Homo sapiens: one gene and its partners. The protein of the gene in region 3 purifies or fractionates together with the protein of the main gene of each other region. This does not show direct contact. Each region holds a gene or a part of one and is shown on either strand. Other genes may lie near its edges. The genes, in order: DLD, SVIL, ASB15 and GPI.

Region 1 (5,080 bases), about 16 Mb from region 3:
TCTGTGGCTTCTGTTTTTGTGTTCTCAATGTTATCTAAGACTTTCTAATTTTGACAAAGTCCAATTTATCATTTTTCTTTTATGGATTGTGCTGTTGGTGTTACATCAAAGAAATCTTCGCCTAACTCAAGGTCACTTCTAGGATTTCTTCTCCTAGGTGTTCTTCTGGAAGTTTCATAGTATTGGATTTTACATTTAGGTCCATGATCCATTTTGAGTTAACTTTTATATATACGTATTGTTAGATTTTTAGTGTCACTATATTGCCTCTAGTTAACTCAGTCTTCATACTAGAAATTAATGAGATTTTTTAAATGAACGCCCACACCTAATTTAGGGAAGGTAAACTTTTATAGTTCATTTGAATTACCAGATGATTTTAATATACATTCTTGCAAAGGATATGTTCATGGTTTTTCATATTTAATGCTGTGAAATTATGTTCATCTTGCCAGTTATGTATTGTTTAATATATAATTATTTAGAAGTTATACTAATTGTCAAAATGTTAAAATAAACTAGCATTCAGTTTAAATTATAATTTGAATGAAAAAGTAAACATTTGTCCTTTGTTGAGAAAAGAAAATAGGAAGCCAGTTTAATATTCTGCAAACATCAGTGATTTAGTAACCTGTTTCCTTTTCCTCAAGACTTTTGTACTTGCTGTTTCCCTCTGCCTAGAGCAACACTCTTGCCCCAGTTAACTGGGTAGTTCATTGCCTCACTCCTTCAAGTTTTGTGCAAATGTCACTCCCAGTGAGGCTTTCCCCAAACGTGCTATTTAAAATTGTAATCCCAGTAATCAGTGGTCCTAGTTCTACTTCCTGTTTTATTTTTCCTGTAGCACTTTATTCTCTGTTATGAATTTTACATATTTGTCTATGTCCCCTGCCAGAATATAAGATCCCTGAGAACAGAGATTTTTGCTTTGTTTACTAATGTATGCCTAGAAGCTAAAATATTGCCTACCATGTAGTAGATGTTCAACAAATGTTGAATGAGTAAGTTAATAAATGTATGAAGTTATACATATTTAACACAGGGTCAATTTTAAACCTCGGAGCTTCTCATAGGAACATACTAGCGAAAGAAGAAAATGTTTTACAATAAATTATTAAGATGATTTCGTAAACATTTGCTATAGAAACTTTTATGATTATTGGGTTTTTTTAATTTATTTGCAGGGTTCAGTTTGGCAAAGACTTGGTGCAGATGTGACAGCAGTTGAATTTTTAGGTCATGTAGGTGGAGTTGGAATTGATATGGAGATATCTAAAAACTTTCAACGCATCCTTCAAAAACAGGGGTTTAAATTTAAATTGAATACAAAGGTTACTGGTGCTACCAAGAAGTCAGATGGAAAAATTGATGTTTCGTAAGTATACATCATTTGTTTTTGATGTATCATCCCTGTCTCTTTAAGCAAAACACTCAAGTTTCAAAATCAGTTTAGCAAATATAGGGTTTTTTCTAACTTAAGGTCATTTTATTACTTAATATAACTCAGTTGCTTATCAAATTATTGCATTAGCACATTGAAATTTATGATTAGGTTAATGCTAGAAAGAGAATCCAATATTCTCATTGTTGTGCCTTCTTATAGTACATTCAGAAAAATTTAAATTCCCAATAATAAGTAAAATTGAATCAATATTTTTAGGCAGATACATGGGGAAATCAATAATAAAAGATTGCTTACTATATGTCTGGTACTCTACTGATTAAATACTTTAATGGCATTTAACTTATTGAATTAGTTTTTAAATAAATATTTAAATTAAATAGTTAATAGTATTTAAATAGTTTAATGACTTTTACTCAAAGATAAGAAGCTGAATTCATTGACTAATTAATGACTAACTTGTCACACAGCTAGTGGGTGGCAGTCAGTAGTTGAATTTGGATTTCTGTGACTCAAAGACCTGTATTCTTAACTGCTGTTTTATTATACTGTGGTTTTTGTGAGATTTTAATAACAGACCTCTAGATTTTAATGATAGATCTCTTTCATTGTCTGACTCTTATGTTTATATTCAAATAAACTTATATTGTTAAAAATGTCATCAGTGCCGGCTGGGCATGGTGGCTCACACCTGTAATCCCAGCATTTTGGGAGGCTGAGATGGGCAGATCATGAAGTCAAGAGATCAAGACCAGCCTGGCAACATGGTGAAACCCCGTCTCTACTAAAAATACAAAAATTAGCTGGGCGTGGTGGCGCGTGCCTGTAGTCCCAGCTACTAGGGAGGCTGAGGCAGGAGAATCTCTGGAACCTGGGAGGTGGAGGTTGCAGTGAGCCGAGATTGCACCACTGTACTCCAGTCTGGCGACAGAGCAAGACTCTGTCTCAAAAACAAAACAAAACAAAAATGAAAATGTCATCAACACTTGAGAAATTGCTGGCCTTAAATTTCTAAGCCTATCAATTTATGTAGGTGTGTATTTAACATTTATACACTGTTTGTTATCTAGTATTGAAGCTGCTTCTGGTGGTAAAGCTGAAGTTATCACTTGTGATGTACTCTTGGTTTGCATTGGCCGACGACCCTTTACTAAGAATTTGGGACTAGAAGAGCTGGGAATTGAACTAGATCCCAGAGGTAGAATTCCAGTCAATACCAGATTTCAAACTAAAATTCCAAAGTAAGTTGGATAATTGTCTGCATTTTCAGTAATTTTAAAATTGATTTCAAACAGTATTTTGAAAAGTAAGATTTTTATGCTTAAAATATGTATTGGCTTTGGGGAAGAATAGTAAACTTACAAAATGTAAAATAAAAAATAACTGAATTTTACTCAAAGATAAGCTGAATTCATAGATTTTTGAAGAGCTGCATTTGATGTATTTTTTGGTGACTTGTTTACTGGAAACTTTTGTTACCATAATGTAACTGAAGGTAAGTAGCTGTGATTTCAGAAATTCATTGTGTTTCTTTTGATTTCTGTGGTAGTATCTATGCCATTGGTGATGTAGTTGCTGGTCCAATGCTGGCTCACAAAGCAGAGGATGAAGGCATTATCTGTGTTGAAGGAATGGCTGGTGGTGCTGTGCACATTGACTACAATTGTGTGCCATCAGTGATTTACACACACCCTGAAGTTGCTTGGGTTGGCAAATCAGAAGAGCAGTTGAAAGAAGAGGTAAGTCTGAACATGGGTGGTTTTAAGCCAATGTGTGAGTTGTGCCAATGACATTGGTGGTTGAGAAACAGCATTTTATCATTATGCTAATATATTTAACAGCTGTGAAATATTGTTTAGCTTATATATTTTTCCCTTGTTAGCATTATAAAGAGATCATTCACAGATTTATCAGCAGTAATTGAGAGGAAGAGAAGTTGCCTATATTAAAAAACTAGTAATTCCAGATCTTTTATATTTGGCTTTGAAATATAACCAGATGGACAGACATTTGTATTTGCTTGTATTCGTGCCTGAGATATAGTTCATTAACCAGTCTTCTGGTCTTTCCTTTCCTTCTATGTGCTTTGCGAACAATTCCCTTCTTGGGATTTATTTTCTGAACAAATGGTAGATGATTTTACAAATTGGAAAGAACTTTTCTGGCAGTTACGTAGATTCTTTTTTTCTGACTGTCACAGGGTATTGAGTACAAAGTTGGGAAATTCCCATTTGCTGCTAACAGCAGAGCTAAGACAAATGCTGACACAGATGGCATGGTGAAGATCCTTGGGCAGAAATCGACAGACAGAGTACTGGGAGCACATATTCTTGGACCAGTGAGTATTGTAAAACCAGAGAAATCCCATTAAGATTTCTAGAAAGCATTGCTGTTTATTAATTATAAACCACCTGGTGTTAGTCTGAGGTTGCTCATTTCCAGCAAAACTTTGAATATGGCTCTCTGTGCATCATTTCTAGAAGGATACCAGCAGCACTCTCACAGTCTTGCCCACTGTATCATCTACTTTGTCCTGCAGCCAAGATTCTCTCTTTAAAACATACACCAGATTATGCCCCTTAAAATCCTCCAGTGGTGCTTTTCAACTTCAGATTGTTACATCCAAGGCCTCACTGAATCTGTTTGTGCCTACTTCTCTGACCTCTTCTTTTTCTGCTCTCTTTTACTCATTAATGCCATGTCACATGGGCCTTCTCTCATTTTCACAACAGACCAAATATTTGCATTTTAGGGCCTTTGTGCTTAAGATACCCTCTGCTTAGACTGTTCTGCCTCCAGATCTTTGAATGGCTGGCTCCTTATTATTCAGGTCTCAGCTCAAATGTTACCTCCTAAGGGAAGCCTTTCCTACCACTGAGCCTAAAGTATGTATCTTTCTTGTAGATATCTCTTGTATCTGATGTAACAATAATGAGAATAGAATATTTGAGTGCTGTGTCACTTTAGTATACATTTTGTTATTTTTACATCAGCTTTTTGAAATAGGTGCTGTTATTTTTGAGGTGAAGAAACTGAATGAAGCACAAAGAACCAATGAATGGTTAAGGTAGTAAGTGGTAGATATGAATTGAAGGCCCTTTGGCTCCAGAGCCCAAGCTCTTCTGTGTCACCTTTTCTATTAAGCTTTTCCTGACTTTTCTTCAACTGATAAAGAAACAGATTTAAGGCGTTTTTAAGATCTAAAAGCTTCCCCTCAACAATTGCTATCCTATTAGCATGTAGTTTTTGCCTTGGAAGCAAATTTACTTGGCTTGTTATTTTAAAGGGTGCTGGAGAAATGGTAAATGAAGCTGCTCTTGCTTTGGAATATGGAGCATCCTGTGAAGATATAGCTAGAGTCTGTCATGCACATCCGGTAATTATTAACAACATATAGAATTGATGGTTGCCTAAATTTTCTTCTGACCCACAAATATTTGGATTTTAATTTTAAATTTCTTCCCTTGCAGACCTTATCAGAAGCTTTTAGAGAAGCAAATCTTGCTGCGTCATTTGGCAAATCAATCAACTTTTGAATTAGAAGATTATATATATTTTTTTCTGAAATTTCCTGGGAGCTTTTGTAGAAGTCACATTCCTGAACAGGATATTCTCACAGCTCCAAGAATTTCTAGGACTGAATTATGAAACTTTTGGAAGGTATTTAATAGGTTTGGA
Region 2 (5,322 bases), on a different chromosome or scaffold from region 3:
TATTCTGGGTAAATTCTCTTCCTCCATTAAACTTGGGACCCCAGATTGGCTGCTCTCCTTTTGGGTGGGTGGATGGTGGGAATGCATGACTAAGAGCTGTTGCTCATATTAGAAATACATGGAACAGACTGGTGGTCAAGAGGCAGGTTTTGGGCTGGGTGCAGTGACTTGTGCCTGTAATCTCAACACTGTAGGAGGCTGAGGTGGGAAGAGTCCTTGAATCCAGGAGTTGGAGACCAGCTTGGGCAATATGATGAGACCCTGTCTCTATAAAGAATACAAAAATAGGCTAGGCATGGAAGTGTGCACCTGTAGTCCTACCTACTTGGGGTGGCTGAGGTGGTAGGGTCGTTTGAGCCCAGGGGTTCAAGGTTTGTGTGAGCCATGATTGAGTCACCACACTGCAGCCTGGGTGACAAAGCAAGATCCTTTCTCTAAAAAAAGAAGAGGCGAATTTTGGATGATCTTGCCTGCGTCTGAGTACTGACTCCTCCACTCACTGAAAGTCACTTTGGCCAAGTGACTTCGTGTTTTTGTGTCTCTGCTCCCACACCAGTAAAATGGGAATAATAATAAGATATCTTGATGGACTGTTGTGATAAATGAGAAAATCAGTGTAAAGTGCTTGGAGATGTGCCTAGTGCAGAGTGGGCACTTGCTGAATGTTAATTATTTGTATAACTTGCTGGTGTGGGAAGCCTGACTCTTCTCCGGCTGGAATCCCACAGGCCTGCACAACAGTAAATGGCCCCGCTGCTAACCCCCAAGATCTATAGTGAATACACAGGGAGGATGGTGAGTTATATCCTTCTGAAAGTGGCTCAACTGTGCCACAGAACTGATGTTTATGATTTCTTTGGAATAAACGTCGAAATTAACTCTCCTAGTCTTGAAATTCGAGAAAGTTATATTTGTCTTATCTGAGTTCCTTTCTCAGGAAACCAACCATCAGGCATCTCCAATAGTATCAAAAAGCCAGCAGTGGCTCATGCTTGTAATCCCAGCACTTTGAGAGGCTGAGGTGGGCAGATGGCTTGAGCTCAGGAGTTCAAGACCAGACTGAGAGACATGGCAAAACCTCATTGAAAATACAAAACAAATTAGCCAGGCATTATGGTGTGTGCTTGTAGTCCCAGCTACCTGGGAGGCTGATGTGGGAGGATTGTCTGAGCCTGGAGCTGGAGGCTGCAGTGAGCTGTGATTACACCACTGCACTCCAGCCTGGGCAACAGAGCAAGACCCTGTCTCAAAAAACAAAAACAAAACCTGAAGCTTACCAGACCCCTTACCCACCATGATGCCTAACCAACCCCCCGCTTCCTGTTGACCAGCTCCTCTTCCTCACCCCTCCCTAATTCCTGTTTCCCACACATGGTTACATTTCTTCCCTGCTATAAAAATCCCTAATTTTAGTAGGCCAGAGACACAGATTTGAGACTTATGTCCTGTTCCCCTTGGCTGTAGCACCCAAATAAACTTTCTTCCTTGGCTATGCTTGTCTCAGTGATTGGCTTTCTTCTGTGTAGTGAGCAATAAGCCCTGGACTGAACCCCTGGCAATTTGGTAACTCCTGAACTTAGACTGCATGCAGCAGCCATAGAGCTCGTAATCCCTAGAGCCTTCTGGTTTCACGAAACCACAGTTGCAGTGAACAGAAACATCTCGTTCCGGCTGCGGCAGACACCAAGCTGAAGTCAGCCCCTTCCCTGTGTACATCAAGTCCATTTGGCTCCAGGGAGACAGGTTAGGGTGAGCAGTGATGTCTGTACTACCCAACAGGCCCTCTCCATTGCTAAGCAGAAGTAGATTCTGTTTGTTTAAAATTACTCGAATTTCCTATAAAATACACTTGGGTCGTTTCCCCAAGCAAAGCAGCTCTCACATGGTAAAAAAAAATCAAAATGGTAAAAAACCTATCTCTCACCAAATCAAAACAAATCCTTGGATTTGCTATTCCTAGCAATGTTAATAGCTCATATATAAGAAATTCAACATAGCTATAATAAAATTCTTTCCTGTGTGGTTGGAAAAGAAAACATTCTAGATTATAATATATTTTGGTGGATAGAAGTTATGATAAATGCCTCATGCAGAAATACCAGGTGGTCTCATAAAAGACAATATTAATGAGATGTTGAGTGATCCCTTATCATAAGGGAGTCGCAGCACCTCCATTCATTCAGTTTTCTGAACATACTAATTCATCAGATTTCGTTTGTGTCTCCTCTACACAAGGTTAACATCTGAAACATGAGGGTTTGGTTGTGCGTCACATGGACACTGAGAGACAAGCAATGCCAAGCAACAGGTTCTTAGCAAACAGAATGAAGAGTTCGCAGCTTTTATGTACATATATAGTCCTCAACATGATTCAACTCACCTTTGCTTTTAAGTTTTTAAAATTTGGGTATCGTGTAGAAAATTACTAAAATAGTTAATTGATTTTCCATTAGACTTCTCTTCTTCCTAAGCAAATTCTATGTAGGTTTGTTAAGATGTTGCAAAAGGAAAAATATTTTCCCACTCTGAAAGTGCAATTGGATGCTCTCCCCAAAGTAAAGTTAACCCACAATCCAAAAGGCGCAGGAGCCACCTTCATAGGGCAGGAAAGCGTGCTCACCATCTCTGTGATCTCAGCGATGTCCTCTCTGTGCTCCCAGCTGGGAAACATATTGGTGAATGTCAGGGGCTCCAGACCAGCGTGGATAAGGTAAGACTTGGGGGCTGGTTTCTTGAGATTTTTTCCTGTAGTTACACAGATTGCAATGTCAGTAGACCCCAGGGAGACCCTGTCTTTCTCTGATTTCCCTTGAAATCTTTTCTTCTTTGCCAGAACTCATGACTTCATGCTTAAAATGCAAGTTACCAGTAGTTCATAACAACACATGGATAATGTTTATATAAGATGTTTGTTAGTTTCATGCCTGTGACTACCATAGTGACCTATAATCAACCTGAGTCTATACTTCTTGAACCTAACAAAACGCTGTGTATTCCTGGAAGGGAGAGAGAGGCTCTGTCTGCAGCTTCTGGGTGGAGCATTTTCTTCCTCCTGAATTCACCTGTAGAGTCATCCGTCTCATTTCCTAGCACAGGATTAACTCCCATAATGACTGACGGCGAACGACAGCATCTTATACATCCACATTCACTATAACATTGAGTGGAAGGTTTCATATGTTATTTATTGCTAAAGAGTTTTTCAGGAAGAGAATCCATTGCACATACTCAGTGACATTAAACTAGTTGTGTCAATGAAACCATAAAAATTAAATAAGATTAATTACTGGCATTTTCATTTTATATAAAAGACTAGAAATTTCATGTGTATAGTAAAGAACCATGAACTTACTATGGGTATTTCTCTTTGGATATAATACTAAAAATAATAATGAATAATAAAAAGGTTGGCAATGGCCGTTCACTGTTTGGGGGAGACCTCCATTCTCCAACAGCGTGGTAGTGCTTGCAGATAATGTACAGGGCAGAGGCCAACTTGTCTCTCAGCATGATCAACCCCGAGTACAGCGGGGTTTTAATCTGCCTGGGGCATTCCACAATACAGCCTTTATCCTTGAGGGTAACAAGTTAGCCTCATAATATCAGAGAGAAAAACTAGTTCTTCTTCATGCTGGCAGCTGAGAATGCGCTAATCTAAAACTTAATACATCTCAAAAAGTTAAAGGGGAAAAAATTGGTTTCATCACCACCTGCCAGGCTTTATGGATGGATGCTGGCTGACATGCACAGAAGGGGAAGGGGGTCTCCTGGCTGCGCATGCCTGAGGGGCTTCCCCATCTGTTCCGTGCTGCAGGCATGTTAGAGGGAGCCTCACCTTTGCAGTACTGGAGCACAGTCTCCATCGCACTCTTCCGGTCGGAGGCCCAGCGGATGCGGGCGGAACCAGTGATCTTGTTCTCGATGGGCCACCAGCCTTGCCAGAGGTACACCTCGTGGTGATTGTCAACAAGGAAAAGTGCTGTGAGGGCAGGGACAGGGCCAGACCATCAGGAGCTCCTTCACGGACACTTCTAGCTCACTCCTCCCCCAACCTAGTGGATGTTGTCCCTCTTGACTGCAGTGTCACAGGGGGAAACCCCCTTGGCCATCAAACCAGGGGCAAAGGGGCAAACAGAGAAACCCAGGATACCCCAGCCCTTTGACAGTTCAACGGGGAGAAGCCTGTAGGCAGAGAGAAGTGGTGTCAAGGAGTTGGTCTTTTTCATTCCTCGTCCTCCAGGTCCTCCTCCCTTTGCCCCAGCTCAAGGCCCTGGCCCTTCTGGATACTGGCAGGGCTGTGCTAAGAGTGGAAGGGATAATGCATGTGCCACTCAAGGGGCTGTTAGCACCGCATATCTCCAAAGAGCACAATCAACACTGGAGCGCACATCTCACTGCAGACAGGTCAGTGGCGTTCCTGCCCTGCACGCGATTGCTTAGCAGTGAGGTGAGCTCATGGCTCTCTTACAGAGAAATGGGCCTTAAAAAGCAAAACTGCCACCGGGAGTGGTGGCTCATGCCTGTAATCCCAGTGCTTTGGGAGGCTGAGGAGGAAGGACTGCTTGAGCCCGGAGGTTGAAGACCAGCCTGGGCCACATGATGAGACCCTATCTCTACAAAAAGAAAAAAAAAATTAGCGAGGCATGGTGCTGCATGCATGTAGTCTCCACTACTCAGGAAGCTAAGGAGAGAGGATCGCTTGAGCCCAAGAGTTAGAGGCTGCAGTGAGCCATGACTGCGCCACTGCACTCCAGCCTGGATGACAGAGTAAGACCCTGTCTCTAAAAAATAAAATAAAAGGAAATAAAAATCAAAACTGTTCTACTGCCTTTTCCTCCTACCTTTTTCTCCTCCTCAAATTGTCAGTCTGACTCTTACTCCAGGTGGCAAAATGCCTCTCACTCTTGCTAGTCGGCTCACTGTAAGTCCTTTCCTGACATGCATTTCAGGATTCTGTGAAAACCACACTTTAAAAGCCCAGTGGAGGTTGATAACCCGCCCTGAGCCCCAGGATGAAGGGCGTGGGCACACCCTCTCTTACTGGTGGCTGATTTTCCAAGCATGACATGTGCACTGGGCAAACTTTCAGTGCTGCCCTGAGATCCCGGTGCAAGATGAGGTCCCTGGCTGCAGCTCCAGGCTCTTGTAATGTGAGAAGCAACAAACACAAACTGAGAGGCAGCTGACCTTGGCTTCATTGGAGGGTGGGTGGGAGGGGTTGTCAAGCCCAGTCTCTTGTTACTTTCCCAACCAGAATGAGGGCACAGAGCCCTGACCTTGGGATCAGAAGACCTGGGCTGGAGTCTTGGCTCTGCTGTGGAG
Region 3 (5,322 bases):
CAGCAAACCACCATGATAAATGTTTACCTGTGTAACAAACCTGCACATTCTGCACATGTACACTTAAACTTAAAATACAAGTTGAAGGAAAAAAAACAGAAAAAAACCCACCAATCGTATATTTAAATAGATTGGCTTCAATTCATTGAAATCATTACCCTTTTTGAAACTTAAATTGTCCCATCTTTGGCCAGTTGGAGCCTCTTCAAGTTAGCCCCTGAATTCTTTTGTCATGAATCATGTAGTCTTTCAGAGTTTCTTTGCTTTCTGGTATGACCAGATGTTCCAGGTTCATCTTATTCATTTCCTTCCCCAGATACAATCATCCATTTCTCAAAAACAAAACAAAACAACCTCCAGCAAAAACCCTGGTTTCTTTTGTTAGGAAATGGCATTTCCAGGCCAAAATCTGGGTCGTAGGAATGCTCATTGCTACTGGGTTCATCATTATTTCTAAGACTTATCTGTAAACAGACGCACGTGCGCGCGCGTGCACACACACACACACACACTCAGCATAATCCACATGCACACAGATGCTTTCAAGATAAAATAGCTTATGAGTTTATATTGTTATTTCTAATTCAAATTCAGGACTACAGGATTTCTCTTTAATCTCTTCTCTATTACATCTGTATTTTCTTTCTGCCACACTGACAATCCTTGGTTTCAAGGATACAAAGAGTAATGGAATTGGAATATTCCTTAATTACTCATTTACTGAATATATCTCTCATCCTCAGCATAACAATATTAATATTATATCACTATCAATATTTTAAGATATTTAAAAATATGTATTCTAATTATTAAATATTATTTATTTTATCTATGTACTAATATTCAAAAATAAATAATTGTGCTGTATCTATTTTATCAGAGCATATAACCATTATGTATTGCATCTTCTCCCTTTTAACTCTCACTTAGTCTTGGCATTCTGTTTAGTGTTAGCCTTGTTTAATACTAGTCCTCATGGTGATATCTCGCTAATCATTTTGGGTTGTCTAAAGGCCATTTCTTAGTGGATCCTTTGGACGTCAGCAAGAGGAACAATATTTCCTGAGTTCTTGCATGCTGACAACAGTTTGCCTACATTGATCATTGGAAGTCAATTTTGCTGTGTAAGCATCCTTGCCTCACATTTTCCTTCCAAGGAGAGTCTTAAATATGTTACTCCATTGTCTTTTGGCATAAAGTATTGTTGATGAAAAGTTTAATAATAATCTATTTTTTTCTCTTATAAGTCACTTGTTCTTTTTGCCTATGTGCCCAAAGGATATAGTATTTTATATATTATAGTTTCAAATCTTTCTTTTTTATTACAAGTTTTTCTTGAAACTTAGTTTTTTGTATTTCTTATGTTCCCTTGATTTGGTTTTCCTTTTCAAGGAATCCTATTATCCATATATTGACTATTCATTGTCTGTCATCAATGTTTTTAGCTGTCTTTCAAATCCTTTTATCTAAGCTACAGGGATGCAAAGGCATAAGAATGATACAATGGACTTTGAGGACTCAGGGGGAAGGGTGGGTCAGGGATAAAAGAGTACACATTGGGTACAGTGTACACTGCTTAGGTGATGGGTGCACCAAAATCTCAGAAATCACCGCCAAACAACTTATCCATATAACCAACACGACCCGTTCCCCCAAAACCTATTGAAATAAACAAATATACATATTTTAAAATCCTTTTATCTATTTCTTCGTTTATATTTGATTTACAATTTTTCTTCCATATCCTCTTTTATATCTCTCAATGTATTGTCAACTGTGTTGCTAGTTCTTGTTTTCATTCTAGTTCAGTCTTCACATTTGACATTAATTTTTTCTAATTTTTATTCCTAAATCTTTCCTCAGTTGTTACCTGATTTCTGAATTTTTCAAATTTTGACTCGTATTGTTCTTTCATATCTGATATTATTTTCCTCATGCTTTTTAGCTCATTTTTGAAATAGAAGGTTTGCATTTTTTAAGTTATGTATTCATTGCCCGTGGGGATATTATTCTGTTCTTCTTTCTATTATTATTATTATTATTATTTTTGAGATGGAGTCTCGCTCTGTCGCCCAGGCTGGAGTGCAGTGGGGCGATCTCGGCTCACTGCAAGCTCCGCCTCCCGGGTTCACGCCATTCTCCTGCCTCAGCCTCCTGAGTAGCTGGGATTACAGGCGCCCGCCAGCACGCCCGGCTAATTTTTTGTATTTTTAGTAGAGACGGGGTTTCACCTTGTTAGCCAGGGTGGTCTCGATCTCCTGACCTCGTGATCCGTTCGCCTCGGCCTCCCAAAGTGCTGAGATTACAGGTGTGAGCCACCGCGCCCTCTCTGTTGCTCATTTTTATTTGCATTTAGTTTTCTTGACTTTTTAGAAGGATGCTTGGTTCCAGATAGCTCTTCTAACTTTGCAGAGCTTCTTACTCTATTATTTTCTTGCAATGACTCAAAATATGGTGGTTAGATCTCTGAGGTTTCCTGGCTCTGTTTGCCACCCCAACTTTTTTGTGGGTCCTTTCTTGTTTCTGTCCTGCTCGATTTTTGATTTTACTCTCAATGCGGGCTTAAGTCCAGGAAGGGAACTTAGAGAAGTGGTTTTCAAGAATGCATAGGGTCTAGACTGTTTTGTAATTTCCCTTAGGCTTAGCTTTTTATTTGTAAAAAATAAGCATGATAATACTTTACAATATTTCATAGCACACTGTACATATACATTTCAGATACCTCACATAAACTTACCATGTAGTAAAAACATAAAAATGTTAATACTTTAGTTTTAAAACTAAATAAATTTATTAAGTAATTTAAGTATTCTAGACACTACCACCTTATATGCATTATTTCTTTAGATTCCCACAACAACTTTATGAGGTTAATACTATCTTACATCTACTTTGCAATGGGAAAACCTAGGCATAAGAAGAATAAGTAACTTGCTCAAAGTCACACAACTAGGATGGCTATCTTGGTCTTTTTATAGGAAATAAAAAAATCCTCCTCCACTTAGAGAAGCAAAAATGGTAACAATAAATTGTTGCTTTTTATCATGAAAACATCAGTCCTGAATTACATATGCATTTTATAATCTAGCAATCCTACTCCTAGGCAAGGCCAGAATTTCATTTCATTCTAGGTCTATCTGACCCCAGAGCTCAATTTCTGGGCTAACAATACTATATTACTCATCAGATTCTCCAAGACTCCTGTTTTAGTTGCTGCAAAGTCTCTTCTATTATAGAACTAATTCCAGGGGAAGGCTGATTCAGGTACATTAAAAATGTCAAATTATTTAAATGTCATATAAAATTCTATAATGCTTCTTTAGGCTTCATGAAATTGATGTCCAACTAGGTTTTGAAAGTTTATTTTTCCAAACTTATATTTTGAAAGTGAAAGCATCTCAAATCTATGATATTTTTCTGGTTTTTATTTGTATTTGCATTATTTAAAAATGTACTTTCATTGAAACTTGTATTATTCATTTTCATGGTAAACTTTCACCTAGAAAAGACAAAATGGCCTGTCTACAAATACTAACCTTTGATGGTAGGACTTTGTCAATAAAGACCCCAGAGAAAGCATGTCAAAAAGAGTAATTCTAATCCCTGCTGTTCATTCATTTACTCCATATTTATTGAAATGTACTACTTACTAGGCACTATGCTAAGCCTTGCAAATATAACAAGAAACAAAGTAGATCTCTACCCACATGGAGCTTGCAGTCTACGTATTGTATGATATTATAGAAGTTAATTTTTAAAATGAATTGTAATCAGAACGTTAATATAGCTGTAGTATTACTCATTATACAATTACAAAGCTGGAAAATATAAAGAAAAATGAAAATATGTATCTTACAACAGAGGAAGTGTTAAGGATGATTTTAAAACCCAGATAATTCTGGAAATACAGTAGAGTAGCATAGGAAAAGTATCAAAGAAGACATTAAGAAATTTCCCCCATATAAGTTCTTAATTTAAAAATTGTAGGCAAAACTTTTGGTTTTTACCTAGTATTTGGCGGATTTCTGGCCATTCTCTCTGTACTTCTAGTGCAGACTTCAGTTTAGCACACAGAGGAACATAATCCATGTAATCTATTAGTACACGAGTAACTCTGCCTACCAAGTGCTTCATCCAAGGAACTGTAATAAACTCACAGAACTGAGAGAATTGATAAAATTTAATTTAGTAGTATTTTTAATATCATATACATAAACACTCAATTGTGTTATGGAAAAATTACTCTGTTTTACTACAGAAAATAAAAGATCTCTCCTTGTAATGAACAAAAATTAAAAATAAATTGTTTGCTTCTCTCTGTGAAACCATCAGCCCTGAAGACTCGCCTGGCTCTGATGTGATTGTAGTCAGCAAAGCATGGAGAAGTCATGCTTCTTCCCATCTGGCCCCAATATTCTACCAAACAGGCAGAAGTGACTAATTACATACATTTTCACATTCTTCTACATTCAGTTTTCAAGTCAAGAAAAAACAAACAACATATTTTTGGGGGAGAGGTTGGGGGGCTAGATTTATGCTTATATCCCTGTATCATTGCATACAAAAATTGAAAAAACAAGAAAAATAGAAAAATTAGAGTTTATTTTTCTTTTCTTGTAACATCCCTAATTGAATGAACATGTATTAAATTAGGATGATAACTCAATATAAAGCAGAAAAGGCATAACTCACCGGGTTATCTTTTATTACACAAGATGTCCATCCTGGCAGCACCTCTTCCTGTATCTCTGACCACACAAATGAATTTCCAAAGATGTCACCATGCATGCAGTCAAAGCACATCTCCACTTGATAGCCATTATTCAGCAATAGCCTCAGCATTACCTCGTCGTTTAGAGCATATTGAATGACACTGGGGAAACGAGTGTCATTCACATGCATAAAATAACAATTGACATTAGCTCCATGGGAGAGAAGCAGCCTGACAATTTCATAATTATTGGCCCTCACTGCAACAAGTAGACAGTTGAGGGGATCTAAGTTTGGGTCTGCACCTGCAGCCAGAAGGACTTCTGTGCAATGAACGTCATTATTAGAAACGCCAAAATACAGCGCAGTCTTCCTCTCATCGTCATAGCTCTGGGAAATGTGGTCAGCAAGTAGAGTGTTGACATCAAAACCATTTTCAATGAGCAGTTCTAGACACTGTGCATTTTGTCCATCTGCTGCTGAGTGAATTGGTGTTAGCCCACTTTTCCGAATTGCATTTTTAGATGTTACTGGGATAAGATATTTCAGTGCACTAAAAGAAAAAAGTCAAATATCTACTTGCCATAAAGAAAATCAAGAAATTAAATAAAC
Region 4 (5,322 bases), on a different chromosome or scaffold from region 3:
TCTGTCCTCATGATGTCATTATCCTCCTCTTACATGTGAGGAGTCTGAGGTTCAGAGGTCACATCACTTATCTAAGATGTCATAGCTGTAAGAGGCAGAATGGAGATTCACACTCAACCTGTCTTGCATTGTGGGTCTAAGCTGAGAGAGGATGCAATCAAGGAAGGCTTTCTGGAGGAGTGCATTTGCCAATAAAATGTGGCGCAGGAGTGGGGTCTGGCAGGGTGAGGGTGGGGTGGCATGAAGCCCTCCACCTTAGCAAGCCTCTCACTGGGTCGGAATCCCAAGATGATCCTTTTCCTGCCCACCTGGGGTCGTTAGACCTTCCCTCAAGGACTCCTCTGCTGACTTCAGGCCATTTCACTCACGTGGCTGGGCCAGCCGCCTGGCACCCGTCACAGACTTCAAGTCTGGTTTGGTTCCTGGCAGTTGGTAGTTATCGGGCTGCTTGGTGAGGGAAGCTTGAGTTGCATGCCTTGCTGCAAATCCAAGGAGCTGAGGACACTGCCTAAAACGTGCCAGCAAACACCATGGACACACATTGGGAGGATGAGGTTACTTCAGGCTTCATGAGCACTCATCTTCGGAAAGCGTTTATTTATTTATTTATTTTGAGATGGAGTCTTGCTCTGTCGCCCAGGCTGGAGTGCAGTGGTGCGATCTTGGCTCACTGCAACCTCTGTCTAATGGGTTCAGGCGATTCTCTGCCTCAGATTCCTGAGTAGCTGGAACTACAGGTGTGTGCCACCCCCACCTGGCTGATTTTTGTATTTTTAGTAGAGACAGGATGTCACCATGTTGGCCAGGCTGGTCTCGAATTCATGACCTCAAGTTATCCACCTGCCATGGCCTCCCAGAGTTCCGGGATTACAGGCGTGAGCCATGGCGCCCGGCCTCTGAAAGCATTTATTGCTTGTTTCTGACATGTATTGTTGCCATTCTCTGCCTTTGCTCACTGTTCCTCTTTTCTCTCACTGTTCATGCCCTGAGCATCTCTGGCAGGCCTTCGGGGCCTGTCCTAGGCATATATGGGTCCCCTCCTCTCCTCCTGACTGTCTGCAGCACATAAGTCCTTGGGGAGCTCCTACTCCTCTAAGCATACAGTGGGTTCTTGGAACAAGGTTATGGTGCTAACAGAGACCTCAGGGCCTGCCTGTCTAGTGGATAGAGGGCCGAGCTATGGCACCATGCCCAGCTGGGAGCATGGCTGCCTGGGGTTGGGGGGGGCAGTCTTTATATCCTGACCGTAATCCCCAGGGTCGAGCCGTGCTGCACGTGGCTCTGCGGAACCGGTCAAACACACCCATCCTGGTAGACGGCAAGGATGTGATGCCAGAGGTCAACAAGGTTCTGGACAAGATGAAGTCTTTCTGCCAGGTAAGTGGCTACTGGGCCGGACTCACCCTTGGCCGTGTGTGTGAGTTATTTGGGAATCTGGGAGCCCTAAGGGGCAGCTCTTCCCTCTTCTTGTAGGCAGGACTCAGGTTCTCACTGCAGCTTAAGGGAGGGGTTGCCTGTGTGATCGCTGACCCTGGAGTCTCTGCTGAGGCCTGAATTTCTCCTGGCTCTGCTCTGAAGGAATCTGCTGCTGGCAGAAGTGGGGCCAGTTTCTTTCCTGAATTGTAGACACCTATGGACTCATGGTGACAAACCACAGAGGCTTCAAATGAAAAGTGGGGCCCCTGAGAGACAGGACAGTCAGGAAAGGAAGGAGCTTTTTCTTTTTTCTTTTTTTTTTTTTGAGATGGAGTCTCACTCTCTCGCCCAGAGTGGACTGCAGTCGTGCTATCTCAGCTCACTGCAACTTCCGCCTCCTGGATTCAAGCTATTCTCCTACCTCAGCCTCCCGAGTAGCTGGAATTACAATTATGCGCCACCCTGCTCAGCTAATTTTTGTATTTTTAGTAGAGACGGGATTTCACCATGTTGGCCAGGCTGGTCTCAAACCCCTGACCTCAGGTGATCTGCCTGCCTCACCTGGGATTACAGGCATGAGCCACTGCGCCTGGCCGGAAGGAGCTTTTTCTAATCTCTTTTGTCATACGCCCTTATCACCCAGTCTAGAAACAGATAAAACATTGTAAAATTTCCTCAACCCTGGCTGGGCGCGATGGCTCATGCCTGTGATTCCTGAACTTTGAGAGGCCGGGGTGGGTGGATCACTTGAGGTAAGGAGTTCGAGACCAGCCTGGCCATCATGGTGAAACCCCATCTCCACTAAAAATACAAAAATTAGCCAGTTTTGGTGACATACGCCTGCAATCCCAGCTACTTGGGAGACTGAGGCAGGAGAATCGCTTGAACCCGTGCGGCAGAGGTTGCAGTGAGCTGCGATTGCGCCACTGCACTCCAGCCTGGGCGACAGAGGGAGACTCTGTCAAAAAAAAAAAAAAATTTCCTCATCCCCATTCCCAGCTAACCCTCCAGAAGCAGCCTTTGTAAAGTTTCCTGTAGCCAGGCGCAGCAGCTCATACCTCTATTCCCAACTATTCAGGAGGCTGAGGTGGGAGGATGGCTTGAGCCTGGGAAGTTGAGGCTGCAGTGAGCCATGGTGACACCACTGCACTGCAGCCTGGGCGACAGCAAGATCGTGTCTCTAAATAAATTTAAAAAATAGAAAAGTTTTCCTGTGAAGTCTTCCAGAAAGTTCCTGTGCACATACACATCTGTCATCTCCTCTTTGAAACACGTACACATGTGCACATGCACACAGGTTGGTTTTCTCCCTGCTCCTCTGAAGCTTATTTCCACCTGGAAGTATGTAAGCAGTGTCCGTGTGTCAGTGACAGTGCATGTAACATGCCTTCTTTTCCTTGTGTGTAGGGTGGTAGGGGTTGCCTCAGAGACCAGCTAAGTTTCCCCACATCAAGCACTTGCCTCAGTGTCTACCCTAGCGGTGATTCTGCAGGGGTGGGTTGGCAGACATCCTCACGTCTGGAGAACGAGGGTGATGCCGGTGTGCCTGTGTGGGCTGTGCATGCTACGAGGGTGATCGTCCAAACTCTTGTCAGCTGTGATCATTTGCTGCTTGTCCTAGGAGCAGTGGCCTCCATGTGTGGCTGGTCAGAGTCCAGTTACTTTGGCCAAGAGCCACTTTCAGACCTGAAAATGGGCTGGGTGCAGTGGCTCACGCCTGTAATCCCAGCACTCTGGGAGGCTGAGGCAGGTGGATCATGTGAGGTCGGGAGTTTGAGATCAGCCTGATCAACATGGTGAAACGCCGTCTGTACTAAAAATACAAAAAAATTACCTGGGCGGGCATGGTGGCGAGCACCTGTAATATCAGCTACTGGGGAGGCTGAGGCAGGAGAATCTCTTGAACCCGGGAGGCAGAGGTTGCAGTGAGCCAAGATCACGCTACTGCACTCCAGCCTGGGTGACAGAGTGAGGCTCTGTCTCAAAAAAAAAAAACCAACAAAAAAACCAACCCATCTCTGGAAAAAATAAATAAATCAGCTAGGTGTGGTGGTGTATCCCAGCTACTTGGGAGGCTGGGGTGGGAGGATTGCTTGAGCCCGGGAGGTTGAGTCTGTACTGAGCTGAGATTGTGCCACTGTCCTCCAGCTCAGGTGACAGAGTGAGACGCCTCCAGGGCAAGGAAGTTGTGGGGTCCTGATGGGAATCTGGATTTCCTGAATGTCACTTAGGGTGATCAGTCCATGTGATGGTCTTTGGGTGTGTGGCGGGGCCTTTCCAGCCATCTGCTGTGAGTGGCAGAGCTGAAGTGCATTAAAAGCCTAGTGCTGTGTGATCAGTCTGGGTGTGCTCAGCCATGCCACATGGCGAGGATGGCACTGCACCGTCTGGGGTGCTGTTTCCAGGAAAGCCTTCCCTTAAAGCTGGCCACTGGAGTACCTGACTCAGGCTGATAAGGTATTTATAGTTCAAAAAAAGTTGCTGAATGGCAGTAATCCCCTGGTGAGGAACATTCCCCATGGCTGTGCTCTCCAAAGTTTGCCAAGATTGGGTGAAGACGTTCACTGTGACCTTGATTGTAGTGGCAAAACCTGAAACCAAGCTGTACTCATTTGTCAGGGGACTTACAAAGTAGAGTCAGCACATATTCATATACTGTCATCCTGGGCACCAATAGGGATTAGGGAGCTATAGTTGGATTGATCTGCCATGCTGTTCAGGATGGACTGGGAAGTTGAAAAAGGAAGTTGCAGAATTGGTGGGTATGGTAAAGACTCATTTGGTCAAATGAAGGCTGGGTGTAATTGTAATAAAGATAGACACATTTGGCTTGGTGCAGTGGCTCACACCTGTAATCCCAGCACCTTGGGAGGCCGAGGTGGGTGGATCACGAGGTCAGGAGTTCAAGACAAGCCTGGCCAACATAATGAAACCCCATCTCTACTAAAAAAAAATACAAAAAAGTTAGCCTGGCATGGTGGTGCATGCCTGTAGTCCCAGCTACTCGGGAGGCTGAGGCAGGAGAATCACTTGAACCCCAGAGGTGGAGGTTGCAGTGAGCCAAGATCACGCCACTGCACTCCAGCTTGGGCAACAGAGTGAGACTTTGTCTCAAAAAGAAAAAAAAAAAGACACATTTTTCCTCTGGGATGCTTCATTATAACAAACCTTTGACAGTCGGGAAAGGAGACTTGCTTTTTTTTTTTTGAGACAGAGTCTTACTCTGTTGCCCAGGCTGGAGTGCAATGGCGAGTTCTCGGCTCACTGCAACCTCCGCCTCCCAGGTTCAAGCAATTCTCCTGCCTCAGCCTCCTGAGTAGCTGGGATTACAGGCATCCGCCACCACACCCAGCTAATTTTTGTATTTTTAGTAGAGATGAGGTTTCACCATGTTGGTCAGGCTGGTCTCGAACTCCTGACCTCAGGTGATCCACCCACCTTGGCCTCCCAGAGTCCTGGGATTACAGGCATGAGCCACCACACCCAGCCAAGACTTGCTTTTTCTAACCTCTTTTGTCACACGCCTGTGAGGGAGGGTTGAGAAGTTGAACAACTTATTTTATTTCTTTCTGTATTGATGGAAATTTTCCCATGGCAGTTTATTTAAAGAAAAAGTAGGGCCAGGCACAGTTGCTCACATCTGTAATCCCAGCACTTTGGGAGGCAGAGGCAAGAGGATTGCTTGAGGCCAGGAGTATAATACCAGCCTGGGCAACATAACAAGACCCTGCCTTTAACAAAAATTTAAAAATTAGCCAGCTGTGGTGGTGTGTACCTATAGTCCTGGCTGCTTAGGAGGCTGAGGCGGGAGAATTGCTTGAGCCCAGGAATTTGAAGCTGCAGTGAGCTATGATCATACTCCTACATTCCAGGTCGAGCAACAGAGCGAGACCCTGTCGTTAAAAC

Evidence for each region.
Region 1: the proteins of ASB15 (region 3) and DLD purify together in Homo sapiens (affinity purification with mass spectrometry, with the first as the bait; one large-scale study listed by BioGRID). This does not show direct contact.
Region 2: the proteins of ASB15 (region 3) and SVIL purify together in Homo sapiens (affinity purification with mass spectrometry, with the first as the bait; one large-scale study listed by BioGRID). This does not show direct contact.
Region 4: the proteins of ASB15 (region 3) and GPI purify together in Homo sapiens (affinity purification with mass spectrometry, with the first as the bait; one large-scale study listed by BioGRID). This does not show direct contact.

What each region holds. Positions count from the first base shown.
Region 1 is NC_000007.14:107,914,322-107,919,401, forward strand, and holds part of DLD (dihydrolipoyl dehydrogenase, mitochondrial isoform 1 precursor), read left to right. Parts: intron 1-1,184; coding exon 1,185-1,375; intron 1,376-2,472; coding exon 2,473-2,643; intron 2,644-2,951; coding exon 2,952-3,141; intron 3,142-3,602; coding exon 3,603-3,740; intron 3,741-4,688; coding exon 4,689-4,778; intron 4,779-4,872; coding exon 4,873-4,938; 3' UTR 4,939-5,080. UniProt on the Homo sapiens protein: Lipoamide dehydrogenase is a component of the glycine cleavage system as well as an E3 component of three alpha-ketoacid dehydrogenase complexes (pyruvate-, alpha-ketoglutarate-, and branched-chain amino acid-dehydrogenase complex).
Region 2 is NC_000010.11:29,459,657-29,464,978, forward strand, and holds part of SVIL (supervillin), read right to left. Parts: intron 3,980-5,322; coding exon 3,836-3,979; intron 2,746-3,835; coding exon 2,621-2,745; intron 1-2,620.
Region 3 is NC_000007.14:123,628,805-123,634,126, reverse strand, and holds part of ASB15 (ankyrin repeat and SOCS box protein 15), read right to left. Parts: intron 5,264-5,322; coding exon 4,693-5,263; intron 4,162-4,692; coding exon 4,008-4,161; intron 1-4,007.
Region 4 is NC_000019.10:34,367,326-34,372,647, forward strand, and holds part of GPI (glucose-6-phosphate isomerase), read left to right. Parts: intron 1-1,257; coding exon 1,258-1,377; intron 1,378-5,322. UniProt on the Homo sapiens protein: In the cytoplasm, catalyzes the conversion of glucose-6-phosphate to fructose-6-phosphate, the second step in glycolysis, and the reverse reaction during gluconeogenesis.